Linked DNA regions of Homo sapiens. The protein of the gene in region 1 interacts with the protein of each later gene in a biochemical or structural test. Each region holds a gene or a part of one and is shown in the gene's direction. Other genes may lie near its edges.

Region 1 (3,751 bases):
AAATAGTACCTAGCTTATAGCGATATGTTCAGCAACATGAATTATAAGGGCACACTACTTTTTTTTTTTAACTAATCATTTATGCTATTCCTGGACATTTCTTGCAAGCTAATGATACTCTTTAGTTTTGATATTCTGGAATATTTTAAATCATGACTTGAGAAAGATACATTAGAAAAAATCAATACTTTAATTGTGCATATGAGTAAAGTTATACAAAATATTGTGGACTTTTACTGGCAGGTTCTTAACCTTTGGGGAGTAATACATTGTAAATACTTTTGATGCAAAATTGGGGACTTAAGTTATTCTTAATGACTAATTGACATAGTTGTTCTTGTTTAAGGATTTTTATGATGAGATATATGGGCATTTGGTTGGCAGGTAAACAGAATCCTGTTGGACACGAATGCATGCATGCAGTTTGCAGTTTTTTGAAAAGCATATTGGGAGTATCTACAGACACTTAAAATGCCATATTAGAATGTTTATTTTAAATGCTTATTATCATTAATCAAACTTTTAAATAAGATAACATTTTAACATAGATATGAATCGTTTGGAGCTAAGTTATACTTTGCATTATAAAATGGGGATGAAACTTTAAAATGAAGTCCTCCTTTTGGTGAAAGCTCACTTGGTAGTTTAAGGTAGACTCCAGGAGTTTTTTGCATAATACAACAGAGTCTTGGTCCCTAGCATGTCTTGTATATATAAGAAAATCAGTCAATGTGAAGTTCTGTTTCAAACCTAAAATTTATGTATTTTAGATCATTTCAAGGATGAGCTCAGAATTTAGTAACGTTTAGATGCTTTGTGGTTTGGCGTATACCTTTGCAGATAAACTGTGACTTGCCCCCCATGCCTGTCACCTAAAGTATGAGAATAAGAAATATTCTCAAACATCAGAAATTTTAAAAATGTTAATGGTTTATGGCAAGAATAACAATTCCTGTATTTTTTTCTATTCTCTCTCTACTTAAAGAATGCACACGTGTTACAAAAGCTGACTACTTCTCTTTTGGATTCTTTTATTGAAAAAGAGCAGTTTTGAAAGCTAAACTTGAAACATAGAACCTGAAATTTGTGCAGAGAGGAAAAAAGTCAGTTATTGAAGTAATTTATTATGTATTAATATATACTTACTTTTAAAAGCTCAGTCATATAGAGTGTTTAAATGATTGATTATAATTTGCTAAATTTTTAAACAACACGACTATTAAATATTTTACCTTATCAGTTCACATTTGAACATTTAAAAATTTAGTAATTGTGTTAATAATAATATTCTGGACATTACTGCTACCTGTGCCTTGAAAGTATATATTTAGTTAGATATAACAAACTGAAAAAGAATGCATTTTATAATATTTGTCTGTCCTACACCATTTAGCAAAAAAGCCATCGAATCTTTCTTTGGTTTCTAATCCTCATTTATTTGAAGGTAATCTATGTTTTGGAGAGGGGGTTATGTGGCAGAGAGAAGTTATGTAACAGTGTGGATTAGTTAATCAAAAGTTAGACGTACTCCGAAAGCTTTGTGGAGGTTACTGCTTAATTTTTTAAAAAATATATTTATATTTCCTAAGAAAATGTCATGTATAAGGATCAAACATTTTAAGCAAAACAGAAAGAAACATTTAAATATTTGAAACTCAATTTTTTTTTCAATTTTAAGAGGCATCTATGAGGGTTTTCCCGGCATCTTGTAAATATTGAAAATACCAGGTTCTGATTCCCTATGAGAAAAATCCTGAAATAGTATTTGCAAAAATTAAATAATCTATTTTTTAGGTATGATTATTACTGAAAGCACTTCACAATCATATTAGTAAATTAAATGTATTCATGTATGCTTTTCTTTGTTTTTTTTTCCTCTTTCTTCCCCCTTTTTGTTTCATTCCCATAGTATTAGCAATTATGTCTTGGGCATAGATCTTTTATTTTAGCCTAATAAATATCAAATTCAATCCTTCTTTTGTATATGAACCTCCCAAATTTGTCCTAGTTTTTGACTAAAAAAATTATATGTAGTTATAATATTTAAAAGGGGAATTTAGACACTAGCAAAATGAGTAAGAAACATATCAGAATCTACATGCAATATTTTTAGGGGGAAAGCCTTTGTTTTCATTGATTGTAGAGATGATTTTTTGCTCCTAGACTTCCATAAACATTGACTGGCATCTAAATGTTTAGGATTTGCCAATCTGGCGGCTGGGCCCTGGCTGTACTACAAGTGGTGAGGTCAAGGCTGGGACAAAATTAGATATGCCTTCCTTGAAATAGGGTTAAGATTATACATTGTTATAAGCATTTAGATAAACTTCACTTACTATCTAAAGGATGGGGAGCTAGGCCCGACAGTAGTAGCTGGTGTACCCTGGTGAACATATTAAAACAGTTTTTTAATTTTCAGCAGTTTTTTTATTTCCGATCATAAGAAATGATACTGATAGTTTTCTCTCCCACCTTCCCAGACTTCCCATAGGATCCTGTGTATGATTTTGGTAACAGAATGCTCTAATCAAATTTCAAGTGAAATGAGGAATTTCTTTCTTAAGGTGACCCGCTGAAGAAAAGTTGTTTTCTTTTGTTTTCATTCTACTTATATTTTTCTTTTTGTTCATTTTCCTAGGATGAATTTCATCCTTTCATCGAAGCACTTCTGCCCCACGTCCGAGCCTTTGCCTACACATGGTTCAACCTGCAGGCCCGAAAACGAAAATACTTCAAAAAACATGAAAAGCGTATGTCAAAAGAAGAAGAGAGAGCCGTGAAGGATGAATTGCTAAGTGAAAAACCAGAGGTCAAGCAGAAGTGGGCATCTCGACTTCTGGCAAAGTTGCGGAAAGATATCCGACCCGAATATCGAGAGGATTTTGTTCTTACAGTTACAGGGAAAAAACCTCCATGTTGTGTTCTTTCCAACCCAGACCAGAAAGGCAAGATGCGAAGAATTGACTGCCTCCGCCAGGCAGATAAAGTCTGGAGGTTGGACCTTGTTATGGTGATTTTGTTTAAAGGTATTCCGCTGGAAAGTACTGATGGCGAGCGCCTTGTAAAGTCCCCACAATGCTCTAATCCAGGGCTCTGTGTCCAACCCCATCACATAGGGGTTTCTGTTAAGGAACTCGATTTATATTTGGCATACTTTGTGCATGCAGCAGGTAAGTGCGATGGTGAGAATTCCTCCCACTTTCTTGTGTGTGTTTCTTTCCTGATGGCCTCCGCGTTATGCCGGATTCTTCCTGAGCTCCCCAAGTTGCAGGCCACGTACATGAAGCCAGTGTGGTTTCAAAGATTGAGAGAGGTGCCACCTTCATTCAGGTGAAAAAGCATAGCTTTGAGCGAATTCTCACTAAGTTCAGCTCTTTTGGTAAGTAGTGTTTTCAGAGGCGTTGGTAATCAGATATGTGATATGTTTAAATCACATTTTTTGATGAGGGGATGAGAGAAGCCTCGTGAAAACCCTTTTAATAAAGAGTATATTTTAACTGACAAATGATCTAGTTTAAAAGCATTTATTTTGGTATTGAGGCAATATTTTTAGTTGGTTTTCTGCTGGGAGTGTTTTTAACCTACTGAGGCCTCTTGAACCCCTTGCCAATTAAGAAGTTGGAGGTAGATTACTATCAAATTGCTGATCATTTAGGAAGGAAAAATAATCACATTAATACGCAGACTTAGTAGCTTTGTATTTAGGAATTCTTAGTGTTGTCTCAGATAGCTAAGGGAAACAAACCAGCTC
Region 2 (3,751 bases), on another chromosome or scaffold:
GTTATACATAAATAAATATGGGAGAGAGAGACAGAGATTGAGAGAGAGAGAGCATGTGTGAGAGAAAGCAGAGAAAATGATGTACATTGGCACCAGTAGACAATCAGAGTTAACCAGGCAAAGGGTATTAGGAGTTTGGTGTATTATCTTGTGGCTTTTCTGTAAGTTGGAAATTATTTCAAAATAGAGAGGTAAGAAATCCCACTCTTCACAGTTTGATTTGCATTAGGCAAGAACCAGGGAGTTAAGGCCAAATCATCACTGAAGCATTAGGTCCCAGTAGAAATGCTGATCTTTCCTGCTGCAGGGAACAACTGAGGGCTGGATTAGCAACCACGAGGCGTGGGTGAGGCGGGACCACACAGGATTTTCTTCCGTGGCTATTTCATTAGCAAAGCGTTCATCTTATTTAAAGCTGGTGTTTGGTAAAGGCATAATCAGGTGCCATGTGTTGTGGAGGCCACAGTTAACATTTTACATTGATGCTTCTTAGGAGAGAACAAAAAGCAAGGACACTCAGGGAAGCTGAGAGAGCTTTTCTCCTCCGCACTCCAGAATTCTAGTGGAAGCTGCCCAGATAAAACAGCTCAGGACTTTGAAATTTTCGGGGAAACAGAATTTTAATCAGCCTGCCATCTTATTCATTGTTCAGAGATGAAAAGAGCGGAAATCAACACCCCCTCATAATGTAGGTGCTGAGAACTTAGGTTCTGATTTCCACAGAATGATTTTCTTACAATATACTCTCTTTCTTTTCTTTTCCTTCTTTCTTTCCCTCCCTCCCTCCCTTTCTCCTTCCTTCCTCCCTCCTTCCTCCCATCCTCCTTCCTTTCTCTCTCTCTTCTGTCCTTCCTTTCTCCTTCTCCATTTTTTCTCGCCCTCTTCCCTCCCTCCTCCTCCTCCTCTCCTTCCTCTCCCTTTCCCCCCTTATCTTTCTCCTTCTCCTCCTTCTTTTGTCCTAACATGAGGTGATAAATCAGAGGTATATAATAAAAGCCAGAATGACCTGGGCTGGTGGACAGAACTCTGACACATGCCGGCCTAAAGTCTGAGTGAAATCCATTTACTGAACGTCCAGCTCTGCAACCAGGAATTGTCAGATGACTCAGGATTTAGTCTATTGTGTTCTTGGGGTCGCCTATTGAGACCACACCTCTTTATGGGTCCTGCGTTCCTGTAGCTAGATTCAAAGCAAAATGTTTCTTCCAAGCAATTTCCTGAAAATGAGTAATTAAAGTCCTGAAACCCTCTAAGGAATGTTCAGGCCTGCATTCGCTGTACTTCCTTCGAGGAGAAAACAGACCTGTGACCCTGAACTTATAGCTTGGATTTTAGACATGTAATGGGGCCCTCACATGGCATCTCTGGGTAGCCAAAAGTTCTATGAGGATCTGTTGTCTGCAACATGGATGTCTGTCAGAGTGAGACCAGCTCACTGATATTCCGGGACATTTGTAGTCACTTCAGTTATTTGGGTTTTAATAAATACTTGAAAACAAGACTTAGGAAGGTTTATTTTTCCTCTTTATTTTTTGTGTTTACTGTAAGCCTAGAGTCCTTGCGTTTTCAACAACTTTGTTGTAGAGCAAATAAAAAGTGCAGGTATTTGGAAGGAGAAAATGAAACTGTTCTGGAACACTTATATGAAATGTTGAATAAATATAGGTTGTTAAAAATCAGCCAGGCAATGGCTGTTACTGAACATGGCCATCTATTAACATGAAATAAACTCCACCTGCAAAGTTTCCTTTTAGGAGAAAGGAGCTCAAGTCCTCTGTCCTAGTAATTCTGCGAAGAATTGGGCTGCGAAGGGCTGACACCCAGGGCAGTGGGGTGCCCTCAACGCCTTGGCTCCAAGGTGCTTGCAGCCCGTGTGAAGCCATGCGGAGTCCCATCACATCTGCATCCTGCCTTGGTCTCAGTGCAGTGTGTCACACGGCGGCACACCGGTCACACCTGCTGTGGCAGTCCCCATCCCAATTGATGCCTTTTCTTTTTTTAATTAAAAAAAAAAAATCTCCTGGCTGCATATCATCAAGAAAAACAACATTGTTTTCAGGGTCTCTTATCTCTCCACTCCCAAATATCCTGTTTCTTTGGGCTGGACAGCCAGGACCAATAGAAACCTCTTCCTGCCATTGGCTGACTTCATTTCCCAGACTTAGCACAATCTCATCCGCTCTAAACAACCTCATCAAAACTACTTTCTGGTCAGAGAGAAGCAATAATTATTATTAACATTTATTAACGATCAATAAACTTGATCGCATTATGGCCAGCACTATTAAGGTAAGGAAAGGGTTCCTTTTAATTTGACAAAATCTTGTTCTTGTTACTCTTTTCTTTGGTTTCCTTTATCAAGGCAGATAAGTTAGGGTTGGGCAACACCCCCACTGCCACAATAGAGGACAACAAGATTTCCTTTGCACTGCCTAGTAAATTTCCTTTTTCCTACTCCAACCATCCGCAAGGCTTAAAAACTTCAAACTCAGAAAAAAATTGGGGTTTCTAAATTCACTGTTGAGTGCTGTGGATTACTTTTGGAAAGGCTTTTCGGAGCGCTTCTGAATTTTCAGATTCTCTAACTATCCCTAACGGTGCCTGGATGTGTGTCTGAGAAAAGGCAGCAGACTCGGAGAGGTTGAAGGGTCGGGTCAAAGCAAAAGATGCGTTTGTGAATGTCAGACATTTGGAGGCTCTTCAGTGGCTCCTTAGCATCAGGGATGCCAGGCAGTCCCAGTGGAAGCGAAGAGATACTCGGCAAGTGGCTGCTGGTAATGGGACGCAAATGTTGACTTGATTTGTGGGACATCCACGCTGAGAACTGAGTGCTCACGTAACTCAAATGGGGGTAATTTGGTTTGTTCCACTATATGTTTATCTTCAATAAAATACCTACTGTCTGTGCACTGTGAGTAAGATTTCTTCCAGCAATGGTTAGGTTTGCGGAGATTGGAAAGCAATGGCCGGTCGGTTCTCTGTGCTGTGGGGTGTTTGGTCTGATGCATTTCCTTGCCTAAGTTTTTAGTAGATAGCATGTAGAGATTAATGTGGAGGTAAATCTGCACAGGTACAATCCTAAATATGGCCTGATTCCTGGAAATGAAGCCAATTTAATGGTGACTACAAGTCAAGGGGCATGCAGTCTTGAATGGGGGTCCGTTCAGTTGTTTTAAAGGCCACCATGCCTTCGTGACATTTGTAGAAATGTGAAAAATCAGCAACAAAAGCAGATGCTGAGTGGAGGGAAAAGAAAATTGTGTTTGTTGCATGTCTTTAGTTTTGCTGCACGGAGGTGAGAAGCATTTGGTGGTGTTTTCATAAGGCTTTTAGTTTGTTGGAAAGTGCATAAGAAAATGGAAGTTTGCCCAGAATTGGGCCAAGCCATTTTCAAAAATACTCTTTGGTTTGGTATTTTCATAATTTGAAATGTTTGTATTAGAAGATTTGACTCATATGTACCATAGAAACTGTGTTTGAGAAGTTCAGCTTTTATTTCTCAAGGTGTGTTCAATAATATATTAAAAATCTGTGTACCAAGAACTTTCACCTTATACTTTTCTTTCTTTGGCTTCAAGGATTGGAATCTGCTGAAATATGGCTCCTATAGACAGGAATTATAAAATTGAGAGTTAATGTGCCCTACTTATAGCTACATGAATAGAAATTACTTGATTTTGTGACCCAAAATGTTATTTTTTTGTTCTTATTTTCATCCTTATTCATATGCATGTTAAATCAAATATTCTGT

What was found. Proteins that work in one complex are often made in the same cells at the same time.
Region 2: the proteins of NFIA (region 1) and ERG form a complex in vitro, tested with the Homo sapiens proteins (one study listed by BioGRID).

What each region holds. Positions count from the first base shown.
Region 1 is NC_000001.11:61,085,511-61,089,261, forward strand, and holds part of NFIA (nuclear factor 1 A-type), read left to right. Parts: intron 1-2,638; coding exon 2,639-3,170; intron 3,171-3,751.
Region 2 is NC_000021.9:38,496,901-38,500,651, reverse strand, and holds the start of ERG (transcriptional regulator ERG), read left to right. Parts: upstream 1-2,174; 5' UTR 2,175-2,271; coding exon 2,272-2,289; intron 2,290-3,751. UniProt on the Homo sapiens protein: Transcriptional regulator. May participate in transcriptional regulation through the recruitment of SETDB1 histone methyltransferase and subsequent modification of local chromatin structure.